Linked DNA regions of Homo sapiens: all the other regions are reported to be linked to region 3. The links are microRNA targets in miRTarBase. Many come from high-throughput screens and were not tested one by one. Region 3 holds a microRNA gene; each other region holds the end of a gene's coding sequence.
Evidence for each region. Region 3 holds the annotated microRNA hsa-miR-4794 (UCUGGCUAUCUCACGAGACUGU, at 877-898, opposite strand). A microRNA usually pairs through its seed, bases 2 to 8, with sites in the 3' UTR of a target mRNA and lowers its output. Matches are read on the target gene's strand: a 7mer-m8 pairs with bases 2 to 8, a 7mer-A1 pairs with bases 2 to 7 and ends in A, and an 8mer does both.

Region 1 (3,081 bases), not on the chromosome of region 3:
CGGTACAATAAAGTTTACTAAAAAACAGTATTAGGGTTTATTTGGAGTTAACTCCCTTAGTAATTGCTACAGCTTCCATAATTAACTGGAGGTCAGCAGTAAAATAATTTTGTGATTATAACAGTAAGCCAGGTTCACCAGAGGAAATGTGGAATACCTAAGTATAAAGCAGCAAAGAAATGTCACCTGTAGTCCCATTATTCAGCGGGTGAGTATATAACAACGAAATACTTTTTCATTTACCAAGTATTGTGTTTTGCATGGATTAACTCCTTTATTCTAACTGCAGAAGACACTTATCCTCATAATTGAAACTGAGGCACAGAATTTAACTTGGCCTACATTCTCTATATTCATCAAATTGAAATTATAGTTATTATAGCTTATATGCCACTTTGTAATATACTTTTGTCTACTTCAAACAGCATGATACATTTCACAACTTTAGTCACATATTTCATGTTACAGGATATTTTTGAGTTTTATCATTATATAAATAACACTATGAGGATTTCTGAATCCAAATCTGGCCAAGTCTTATTTTGCTAAAATCATTTCCTAGGAGCTAAGCATAGAAAACTCTTCTATGCTATTTAGTATATTAACCAAAACCTTTAGAGGTAAAGAGACTGCCAGGTGATCCACATCAGTGATTCTTGGTTTCTAGACCTCTGAGAATATGTGAGATACAGATCCCCTGAAGCCTATCCATAGAAAGTCCTTTTTGGATCAAAGAGATTATAGAACTCTATTTGTTGATAAAGACCAAGGAGCTTCGTGTGTTTCTAATGTTTTCTAAGGACTGGATGGTTTTTAGTTCAATAGCTTTTAGGGGTACAAGTGGTTTTGGATTACACGGATGAATTGTATAGTGGTGAAGTCTGAGATTTTGGTGTACCAGTCACCTGAGTACTATATATTGTACCCAGTATGTAGTTTATCCTTCCCCCTTCCCTGTTCCGGGTCTCCAGTATCTGTTATACCACTCTGTGTGCTTACCTGTAGCTTAGCTCCCACTTAAAGTGGGAACATTTGGTATTTGGTTTTCCATTCCTGAGTTACTTCACTAAGAATAATAGCTTCCAATACTATCCAAGTTGCTGCAAAAGACATTTTTTATGGCTAATATTCCATGGGATATATATACCACACTTTATCCATTCATTGGTTGATGGGTACTTAGGTTGGTCCCATATCTTTTATTATGAACTGTCTAGCCAGTTTTTAAATAGAAAAGTACTGATTAGGTGAACAGTTCCTTAGGAATTAAATTGTGAAGGGGAGGGGACACAGCAGAGAAGTAATCTGTTGGTTCTTTTGAGATATTGAATACATGTCCCAAATTTGCTAGCTGCTTAACTAGCAAGTTAACCCAAACTGTCAGAGTAACTGAAGCAAATATGTCCAACTGGGACATAAGGAACATGAGATTTGTGTAATAAGTAGGTTATCTAACGTGTTCATGTGTCTAACACTTTCTAGCTATTTTCAAGACAGACTTAATCAATACTGTGTTTGCTTTCCAATTTAATCTGTTACAAATACATATGAAGAATCTAGTTGGTACAGGCTCAGGGAGGATAGAAAGATAGGTACACAGATTTGTCCTGTTAGGATCCTACCATTAGGAAGGATTAGGAAGAGAAGCCCTCCATGCCCATACTCTGCAAGGGAGAACAAGGTAAGAGCCACAGGAGGGAACAAAATGCTATGGGGACTCAGTAGGGATAGGTCAGAACAGGCTGGATCCTGCAAAGCTTATTACTGAGCTGGGCAACAACGAGCATGATCAGACAAGGCTGGAGAAAGTCATACAATTTTATGATGCCAGTTTAGTGAATATTAAACTCTTGATGTAACCATTTAAACAATTTCAAGAGGTCTCTCACAAATAGATGTACAAAAGTTGAATTAGCACGTCCAAAGCCATGTGGTTTTGAGGCTAATTCCTTGTTACATAATTTTTTTTTTTTTTCCCCTCGAGACAAGAGTCTGGCTCTGTCGCCCAGGCTGGATCTTGGCTCACTACAACCTCCGCCGCCCGGGTTCAGGCGATTCTCCTGCCTCAGCCTCCTGAGTAGCTGAGACTACAGGCACGCACCACCATGCCCAGCTAATTTTTGTATTTTTAGTAGAGACGAGGTTTCACCATATTAGCCAGGCTGGTCTGGAACTCCTGACCTTGTAATCCACTCACCTCAGCCTCCCAAAGTGCTGGGATTACAGGCGTGAGCCACTGCACCCACCACATTAACTTTTTATTACTTAACATATCTGAGCACTTCCTGTGAGCCAGGCACTATGGGAGATTAAAAAGCATTAAATGTGGTCCCTGACATTATTGTGAAGCTCTGAGAAGATGTCATGCAAAGACACTTGCCTATGTGCCACTGCCACCCTCTGCCCTGCTCTTTGGGTCAAGGTACCTCCAAGCGCCTCACTCCTGCAGCTGCATTTTTTTTTATTTATTTTTTTTTTGAGATGGAGTCTTGCTCTGTCACCCAGGCTGGAGTGCACTGGTGAAATCTCGGCTCACTGCAACCTTCGCCTCCCGAGTTCAAGTGATTCTCCTGCCTCAGCCTCCCAAGTAGCTGGGACTACAGGTATGCGCCACCACACCTGGCTAATTTTTGTATTTTCAGTAGAGAAGGGTTTCACCATGTTGGCCAGGCTGGTCGTGAACTCCTGACCTCAGGTGATCTGCCCACTTCGGTCTACCAAAGTGTTGGCATTACGGCGTGAGCACCTGGCCACGCAGCTGCAATCTTAGGCCCATCATTCCACTGAGTTCCGAAGAATATAGCCTTTTCCTGAAGAAACTCCTTTCTTCAATGCTTCAGGCCAGTTGTGAGTCTCTAAGTAAGTGGACAGGATATCAAACACTGTTAGAGAGTAAACAGAAAACACAGTGACCACAGAGGGAAAAAAAGAACGAGTAAATGAAAAGGATGTTCTGTAATATTTCGTTCAACAAACCTATTCTGCACCATATGTGGTACTAAGGTCTTGCGGGGAGAGGCAAGGACACAGGCTCTGCTTGCTCTCAAGGACCTCAGCCTACCCTGAAAGATACAGGCCTAT
Region 2 (3,081 bases), not on the chromosome of region 3:
CGGAAGGTGGTGGGGTCTGCTCCTTCCACCTGCAGGCAGCCCTGGGGGAAATGCTGCCCTCCCCACCCCCCAGGGCTCTGAGTGTGGAGGGCAGGGGCAGGAATGGCGTCCCTCAGGAGCCAGCATGGCCCTGGAGCCCCCGAGTCCCTGAGGAAAGTGTTGATGCCCTCCAGCATGGGGCTCCTTCTCATCCTGTACGCCCGGCTGCCACCCAGCCTGGTGGGCCAGGCAGGCAGGTGGATAGGGTGGGCAGGCCGGGCAGGGGGGCAGGCGGTCAGGCAGCCCTCTCCCACAGTCCTCATCGACGGCGTGGAGTGCAGCGACGTCAAGTTCTTCCAGCTGGCCGCGCAGTGGTCCTCGCACGTGAAGCACTTCCCCATCTGCATCTTCGGACACTCCAAGGCCACCTTCTAGCCCCACCCACCAGGGGGCCCACCTCCTGCCCCATGCTGTGAGGGGCCCAGCTGCATTTCTGTTAACATTTCAGTTTACTACAGAGACAGACGCTTAAAACACAAAGAGAAACAGTCTTAAGTATGAATGTGCTCACAACGTGGAAACTAACGGGGGAGCTCCTGCCAGGAGCCGAATAACTGCTCTGCTTATTAACCCGAACGTTCGGCCCGGGGCTGGGAAGCCAGAAGGACGATGCTGAGCCATGGATCGCGGAAGGCGTCCTCTGGCCTCAGGAGCCACCCAGAGCCTCACAGGCTGAGTTCTTGCCTCTGTGTCCTGTCCTTCCTGGAAGTCAGGACTCTGCTTCCTCAGGGAGCCCGGGGAAGGCGGAGCTCAGTGGCCACAGGCCGAGGGCCATGGGGCCGCTCAGTCCCGTTGGGGTTGTCCTGAGTTGAGCCTGGGGGGGCCGTCCTGCCCGCCTAAGAGATGCCCCCAGCACCGCACACTCGTGGTTCCCAATAAACTCCTGCCTGCGGCGGAGGTTTTATAGCAGCAGATATTTTTAATGCTTTTCAATACATGTTCTAATGTAGCTGCCAAACATGTTGCTCTTCTGAAGTCCCCCTGGGGCTGGGCAGAGCCAGCAGAGCCTGCCCCCACTTCCCCAGCCCCTGCCCCACCCCGCCTCACACCTTCCCCACTCTCAGGCTGTTCTTGAAACACCATGAGGCTTCTGCGTGTAGTCCCTGCCCCAAACTTAGCAAGCACAGGGGCCTCCACAGCCCAGGTGGCCCCAGAAAATGTTCCAGAGCCCAGCTTGGTACATAGTGAGATGCTGCTGGGGTTGGCCTGAGGTGGGGGCCACTTCCTCCACCCCAGTGGGTATGTCTGAGGTCAGCCATGGGGATATCTGGGTTGAGATTCAGGTTTTGGTGAATATGGGGCAGGCGTCCAGATGTGTTTGTGTCACCTGCTGCAACGCTGTAGCCAATGAAGATTCCAGCGGGATGGCCTGACCAGCGGGGCCGGCACTTTGGAGCCGTGGGTGCAGCCAGGTACCCCGTGCAGGGCCTGGGAGGCTCTCCAGGCCACAGTCCTCAGAGCGTGTTGGGTCCCATGTTGTGTGTGGGTTCCATGCCCTCCACACAGCAGGAGAGGGCTTCCCTGACCACACCTGCCCCCTCAGTCCTGCTTCTCCCCAGTAAGCCTGCACTGTGGGGTCTCCATAGGAGGAGCTGGGGAAGCTGGGGCCCTCCCAGGGGTCCTGATCGACCCTGGGGGCTCTTGGCCTGGTTTCGTAAGATGGAGCACTGCAAAAGGCCATGCTCAGAAAGCAAACGCAGGGCAGGGTGGGCCTCGAGCCGGGGCTGGAGGGGTCTCCACCCTTGCTGGCCTGAGAGATGGCCCACATTTCTTACTTGTGACCGCCCTGCTCTTCCTGGCCGCCCCCCCCAGGTGGCTGAACAGGGTGATTTTGTTGTGGTGAGGGGCCAGGATGTGGCCTGGTGTGCAGCCTCAGCTCCCTGGGTTCAGGCCTCAGAGGTAGCCTGTGTGCAGGAGGCAGAGCCCCAGCCCCTCCCAGCCAGAGCCCCTCCACACCAGGGACTCCTCCTTCACCTGGGACCAGGAGCCTGGGGCACACCCCAGGGTGGGGGAGAGGGTAGGAAGGTCTCCCATTGAATCCTGGCTTCAGGCTCTGCCCCGAGAAGTGTCTGCGGTGAGGGTGTGAGCCCCGGGCTGATGGCCTCTGACCCCGGCAACAGGTGGGACCCTGACTGACTCGTTCAGCTGCCCCCAAGCTGGGCTGCAGAGCATCTGTTTTTCTGCTCTCCAGTTTCTTTTCTTTTTTTTTTTTTTTTTTTTTGAGATGGAGTCTTGCTCTGTTGCCCAGGCTGGAGTGCAGTGGCATGATCTCAGCTCACTGCAGCCTCCGTCTCCCAGGTTCAAGCAGTTCTCCTGCCTCAGCCTCCCGAGTAGCTGGGATTACAGGCGTGTGCCACCACACCTGGCTATTTTTTTTGTATTTTTAGTAGAGATGGGGTTTTGCCATGTTGGCCAGGCTGGTCTTGAACTCCTGACCTCAAGTGATCCACCCGCCTCGGCCTCCCAAAGTGCTGGGATTACAGGCGTGAGTCACCGCGTCCTGCCTGCTCTTCCTGTTTCTTTCCCAAGGGTCACACTCAGTAGGGAGATGAAGGTGGAAACATCCTTGCTGTGGCTTTCTGGCCTCAGAGCAGGTTTTAGAGGAAGGGGCCACAGGCTGCCTAGTGCATCCTGGCTGTGGGCAGCCCCTTTCCTGGAGCCCTCCTGCCTACCCCGTACCTCCCATCTGGCTGCACAGCTCCATCCTTAGCCACGCAAGGGGAGAACATGGGCAGAGTCTCCATCCAGCAGCTGGGGGTTCTGGTGGCACTCCCTGTGCCCCTGCTGCTGCTGGGCTGTGGGTCTGCCCTGCACCCAGGAGCCCCACGGTCCATCCCCCACACCATGCCCAGCACCAGGGAGGTTGGGCAGACAAGACCTGGGCCATGCCAGCCCTCTGTGCCTCGGTTTTCCCACTGGTTACACAGGATGGTCGCATTTTCCCTGCCTACCTCACAGAGCTGTTCTGAGGGTGCATGGAGGAGCACTCTGTCCCACCAAGGACAACTAGAAACCAAAGCCATCTGACAGCCAGTGCGGTAA
Region 3 (3,081 bases):
AACATCCTACAATGCACAGGACAGCACCCCAAAACCAAGAATTATCTGGTTCAAATGCCACTAATGGCCCAGATGAGAAACCTTGAAACCTCGATTGATTGCTTTTTTAACAGGTGTTGGAAAATCACTTTTTAAGCAAAAAATTCACATTTTATTAAGGATATTAATATAACCCTTTCAGGGGTCCTCTAAAAATCTTTAGCAGTATCCTCTGATTGCAGTCAAATAATTATTAACCAGATGTTTTATTTAAGGGCTATTCTTGGGTATGATTCTGACCAATTTATTTTTTCTTTTCCAATTTTTATTTTAGGTTCGGGGGTACATGAGCACATTTGTTACATGGATAAATTGCACGTTACTAGGGTTTGCTGTACAAATGATTTTGTCACCCAGAAAAACTTTGATTGAGAGAAAAATCAGTAAATTATCCCAATTTGTAATTCAGTCAATAGGTTCCAAACTGTTCTTCTATTTGAATTCTCCACCCATCCAAAATGATAACTTATCAGGGAAAAAAAATCCTGTACATTTCAACAACTGCAATTTTTTTCATTCTTTGTTTTTCCTTCCCCAAAGCAATATTAAACAGGCCATCACACGTGGCCTAGATATGGAGAGAGGACTATTCACTCATTATCAAACGTGTTAACGTGGTTTTTAAACAGCAGCTTGCAACTAATCTAACAACCCTCTTTTCCTAGACTTTCACATTCAGTGGGCAGTAGAGGGTGTCAGAGCAATAGGCCCAGCTTGAAAACCTTATATTCTCATAATGCCCTGCATAAGCCATCTCATAACACACATTAAATTTGATGCTGTTTTTTTTTTTTAACATCTGGCTATCTCATGAGACTACAAGCACTGTTAGGACATACAGTCTCGTGAGATAGCCAGATGTTAAAAGATAACATACGATATATGTTTTTGTTCACCACTGTATCTTCAGGCTCTAGCACACTGCCTGGCATTATAGACATAGAAAAAATATTTAATGAAGTGATAAAGATTTTAAAAATTCATTCCTGAGAGTCATCAACCTTATCTTCTGTTCTAATAATCAACTCTTTTAAAACATACTTATTTTTAAAATATACAACAATATGTATTTCTGGAAGCTCCATCAAGAAGCAAGTTCTACCTTTTCTTTGTAGGTCCTGACTTCTGATAAAGTAAATATCATTAATTTCCCACATAGGAGTATTAAGTGCATAGTCCTTTATTGCCCTTGGGAATAAATGTTTTGTAACATAATGAACATAAGATGTAATTAAAAGAACTAAATTTTGAAATATCTTCACAAATTCACTTTAAAATAAAAACAAAATTTGTAGTCATATGTCCTTCTCTCTCACACACACACTCTTAATTCCACTTGAGAAATACCCAAGGGTTTCTTCTACACATTTGGAGGATTCTAACTTTGAAGAGTCAGATCTAGCTAAACTCAAGATATTCCAATCTGGTCCACTGCCTCTTTCTACATAGGCCATGAGCTAAGAATGATTCTTACACTTTTAAATGTTTTTTAAAGGAGAATATTTTTAATATTTAGTAGTTACATGAAATTCTAATTTTACTGTTAATATTTATTGGAACATGATCATTTGTTTACATATTGTTTACGGCTGCTTTCATTTTACAATGGCAGATTAAGTAGCTGCAAGAGTCTGTATGGCCTGCTTTGCTATAGGTAGAAGCCAGCGGCCCTAATTTATCCCCAGATGGAAACATAATCCCAGTGTGGTGCCATAATCCTAGTGTAGTGGTTTTATAGAAATTTCCTACAAATTCTTTAACAGGTCTACCCTTTGGCAGGTGGGGTCTACATGTCCCCCTGTCCCCACTGCTTAAATCTGGGTAGGCTTATGATGGCTTCTACTAGTGGAGTACAGAGAAAGTGATACTACGTGACTCCTAAAGCTAGGTCATAAAAGGACATGCCTGTCTCTTGGAACGCTTACTCTTGGTAGCTGTCAGCTACGCAGCTGTAAGAAGTCCAAGACACATGGAGAGGCCACAGTCAGTGCTTAGTTGGCAGCTCCCCAGCTTAGCATGTCTTCCAAGTCATCCCAGCCCAAGTTGTGGCATGAACCAAGAAACTTCCAGATAATTTCAGCCCCCAGAGTAGCCCCTTGATGAAGCCATGGACATCATGAAGCAGAGATAAGCCATCCTTGCTGTGCCTGGTCAAAATCCTGACCCACAGAATTTGTAAGCATGTTTGTTTATGCCACTAAGTTTTGGGTGGTTTGTTATGCAACAACAGAAAACTGGAAAATGCAGGATCAGCTGAATTCCATCCTAGGATATACATATTGAAGCAGGTGAAACAAAGCTCCTAAATGTAGGCACTGCATCTAAATCATCAAAATTATCAAGATTGTACCCTGTGAGTTGTAAATCTGTTGCAAAGAGATTTCAGGGTTCTTCAGAAAATTTTAATAGCTACCAGGACCTTACAGTGTGGGTATTCTCATTTTATATCAATGAGTTAAGTGATGAGCCCAAAGCCACAAAGTAAGTGGAAGAGCCATTCACTTATACAAATTCAAAGTCTGTGTGCTCATGCACTCGCTGCGGTGCCTCAGACAAACCAAACCTAAAAGAAGCTGCAATGGTGGCTTGAAATATTAAAATATGACAAATCACACAGGCTGAGAATTTCTGTTAACATAATCAAACAAGGCAAAGAGCAGAATGTTAAAAGGTCCTCAACTCTGGGCTGGCTGTGGAACTGAATCTTCCTTGGGATTGCAGGGTGACTGGTTGATGGGAGAGCAGCCCTGGCAGAGGTGTGTTTTACTGGGGGATCGGGGTAGAATGTCTGCCTTTGCCTTCCTGGTTAGGGTGGGCCTTCAGCTGCATTCTTCATCAATAGAGACAGAAAGTACCAAGAATACAGAGTCCAAACACCTATGGCACTTCACAAAAGGTGTCAAATCCATGCTCTGTCTACTTGGATTCACAGCTGTCAGTCAGAAATTCCCCAGTCTTTCATGTAGCAACATTCTATCTTGCCTTACTAAGAAAAATGCCAACATCTGCTGAGTGCCAACTATGTACAAGTCACAATTTTAG
Region 4 (3,081 bases), not on the chromosome of region 3:
TTGAATGGATTCTAACAGACTCTTTTGTTTTTAAAAGTCTGCCTTGTTTATGGTGGAAAATTACTGAAACTATTTTACTGTGAAACAGTGTGAACTATTATAATGCAAATACTTTTTAACTTAGAGGCAATGGAAAAATAAAAGTTGACTGTACTAAAAATGTATACTTGTTGCCAGGAAGGTGACCTCAAAAATTAAAAGTATAATTATTCGGCCGGGCATGGTGGCTCACACCTGTAATTCCAGCACTTTGGGAGGCCAAGGCAGGCGGATCACGAGGTCAGGAGTTCAAAACCAGCCTGTCCAATATAGTGAAACCCCGTCCCTACTAAAAAATACAAAAATTAGCTGGGTATGTGGCATGTGCCAGCTACTCAGGAGACTGAGGCAGGAGAATCATGTGAACTTGGGAGGCGGAGGCTGCAGTGAGCCCAGATGGCATCACTGTACTCCAGCCTGGGTGACAGAGTGAGACTCTGTCTCAGAAAAAAAAAAAAAAAAAAAAAAAAAAAAAAAATATATATATATATATATATATATATATATATATATATATATAAATAAAGTATTCAATCAAGAAACTGCTGTATTAATTTAGGGAAATGATTGATTGATAGTCTCATAAGTCAAATTTTCATCACATAATTTTAAGCTCCATTCTTTTCCATATACAGAAAACTACCCGTGGGGAAGAAACTGGTGAAATGGGATCCCTCCTCTACCAAATTCTGCCTTCTAGAGCTAGATAGATAGATAGGGAATTTTGCTTCTCTCCAAATTTCAAGTTTGGTTAAGTTCTTGGAACTCAAAGTGTGAAAATTTTATGAAGTAAAATTATTTAACTCTGTGTATATTAGGTTAAATAAAAATAAAACTTAAAAAGACAAGCTTAGGGTGCTGCATTGGCTTGTTGCATCTACCTTCTAAACTTTACCCTGAAGGCTGCTGGAAAAAAAGTAAGTTATGCTGAGTCCAAGTTTCCTGAGTAGCAGAAAAGTATTGATAAATTTTATCTGTTGCACTTTTTAACAAAACAAAAAGCATCTGCCAACCACAGAACATTGCAACACCTAGGCCCTGGGCTTTCCCCCAGCATTCATTCACTAGCACCTCATGTTTTGGGGGCACAAGCACAGGGCTTTCTTAGGCTGTAAAATCACCTATATCATCTGTCTGTCCACTGCTTCAACTCCTTCTGCAGTATCCCTGCAACAATATTACATGCTTATGAAATGCTGCAGACAGGGAATTCCTGTCCTTCTAGGATCCTCTTCTGGCTGTGGGCAGCTTTACCATAAGTTCTTGTCTTCTTATGCTGAAATTGATTTCATTTTCATCTTCACGTATTATTGCTTCTTTGCTCTCTCGGTGTCCAACTGAGTCTCATCGCTCTCCCTTCTAATACTCCTTCTGTCATCTATTTTGTCTTTTCTTCTTCAGACTGAAAATCCCTGGTAGTACCTGTAGTTTCCTTCCAGGACACGATTTTTAGTCTGTTCCTTCAATTGCCCTGTTGTAAAGATCAGAAGTGCAGAGTGAAACCAGTTCTTCCCTTGTTCTCGATACTAACTCTCAAACAATACAGTCTACTTAAGCTGTTTTGGCACAAGCATCACAGATATTTGAAGCTTACAGAAACCAGAACCTCTAAGTCTTTTCATACCTGCTACTGTTTAGCCACATCTCTGCTCTGATCTTCTGTTGCTGCTCAATAGTTTCCTGGACCCAAGGAAAAGAACTGACCTACTCGTCGAAACTTCATCTTACTGTTTGGCCCACCATTCCAACCTTTTAAAAATTACTAGTAATTCAGTTAGTTACTTAAGACTAAATAGGGTCAGGCGCAGTGGCTCATGCATGTAATTCCAGCACTTTGGGAGGTCGAGGCGGGCAGACCACTAGGTCAGGAGATGGAGACCATCCTGGCTAACACGGTGAAACCCCATCTCTACTAAAAAAAAAATACAAAAATTTAGCCGGGCATGGTGGCGGGTACCTGTAGTCCCAGCTACTCGGGAGGCTGAGGCAGGAGAATGGCGTGAACCCGGGAGGCGGAGCTTGCAGTGAGCTGAGATCACGCCACTGCACCCCAGCCTGGGCGACAAAGTGAGACTCCATCTCAAAAGAAAAAAAAAAAGACTAAATAATGTGGACACAACATGATATTAGGCTTTATTTGAATTTAAAATCTTGATTCCATCCAGGGACATTTTTTACCGAAGCGTCTCAGAGACTGGCTCAGGGTATTTCTTGACAAGACTGTACAGGGCTTCTCATCATACACAAACCCTCCACAGCCCACGGCTCCAACCCACAGCACCTCCTGCAGTCCTGGAGGGAAAAGGGACAGTAACATGAAGTGTCTGAAGATCCATTTCACCTCTTTTCCATGTGAATCATGACGCTTTCAATGCATTTCTTGACAGGATTCTATTTTGAAAGAATGATGCTCAATCTGTACCTTTTATGCTTCTTGTTTCTTCTCCATCAATAATATGTCAGTCAACTGCTTGTCAGAGACACTTAGCTGCTGACAGGTCCTCATAACCTGACTCAGGTAAACTGCCAAGAGATGCTTGCACTGGAATATAAAACACACACACCTATTAGAAACAGGCAGGGCCAGGGCTGGCCAGTCTAACCAAGATTTCTCATTACCATCTTATTTGGCAGGAGAAGACTAGAGCATACAGATTACGGGGTCTCTAACTGATTGTCTAAAAAGTGCAGATGGGCCGGGCATGGTGGCTCACACCTGTCATCCCAGCACTTTGGGAGGCTGAGGCGGATGGATCACTTGAGATCAGGAGTTCGAGACCAGTCTGGCTGATATGGCAAAACCCTGTCTCCACTAAAAATACAAAAATTAGCTGGGTGTGGCGGTACATGCCTGTAATTCCAGCTACTCAGGAGGCTGAGCCATGAGAATCGCTTGAACCCAGGAGGTGGAGGTTGCAGTGAGCCGAGATCACGCCACTGCACTACAGCCTGGGTGACAGAGCCAGACTGTCTCAAAAAATAAATAAATAAAAACTGCAGATAAAGATGATGAGACAGGAGTATTCTCTTTAGAAATCAGAG

Region 1: miRTarBase lists TRMT10B as a target of hsa-miR-4794. Seed matches in the 3' UTR shown: 7mer-m8 at 2,620-2,626 and 7mer-A1 at 1,992-1,998.
Region 2: the mRNA of PACS2 is a reported target of hsa-miR-4794. Seed matches in the 3' UTR shown: 7mer-A1 at 636-642 and 7mer-A1 at 1,977-1,983.
Region 4: the mRNA of ZSWIM7 is a reported target of hsa-miR-4794. Seed matches in the 3' UTR shown: 7mer-m8 at 1,923-1,929 and 7mer-A1 at 1,273-1,279.

Annotation. Positions count from the first base shown.
Region 1 is chr9:37,777,402-37,780,482 of GRCh38, reverse strand. TRMT10B (tRNA methyltransferase 10B) reads right to left here. Exons shown (of 9, transcript NM_144964.4): 9 at 1,511-2,882. The coding sequence ends at 2,776. It overlaps EXOSC3 (exosome component 3), which reads left to right. Exons shown (of 4, transcript NM_016042.4): 4 at 1-769. Among named protein-coding and RNA genes, the nearest start is that of EXOSC3, 6.1 kb to the left of the region's middle.
Region 2 is chr14:105,394,259-105,397,339 of GRCh38, forward strand. It overlaps PACS2 (phosphofurin acidic cluster sorting protein 2), which reads left to right. Exons shown (of 25, transcript NM_001100913.3): 25 at 296-3,081. The coding sequence ends at 414. Among named protein-coding and RNA genes, the nearest start is that of TEX22, 2.7 kb to the right of the region's middle.
Region 3 is chr1:64,577,672-64,580,752 of GRCh38, reverse strand. It overlaps MIR4794 (microRNA 4794), which reads right to left and starts at 906; the gene lies at 830-906. The region is part of intron 2 of CACHD1 (cache domain containing 1); the gene reads right to left. LOC124904195 (a long non-coding RNA gene) reads right to left here. Exons shown (of 2, transcript XR_007066150.1): 2 at 909-3,081.
Region 4 is chr17:15,975,583-15,978,663 of GRCh38, forward strand. ZSWIM7 (zinc finger SWIM-type containing 7) reads right to left here. Exons shown (of 5, transcript NM_001042697.2): 5 at 978-2,581. The coding sequence ends at 2,465. ADORA2B (adenosine A2b receptor) reads left to right here. Exons shown (of 2, transcript NM_000676.4): 2 at 1-164. Among named protein-coding and RNA genes, the nearest start is that of ZSWIM7, 23 kb to the right of the region's middle. RefSeq lists an enhancer at 2,971-3,081.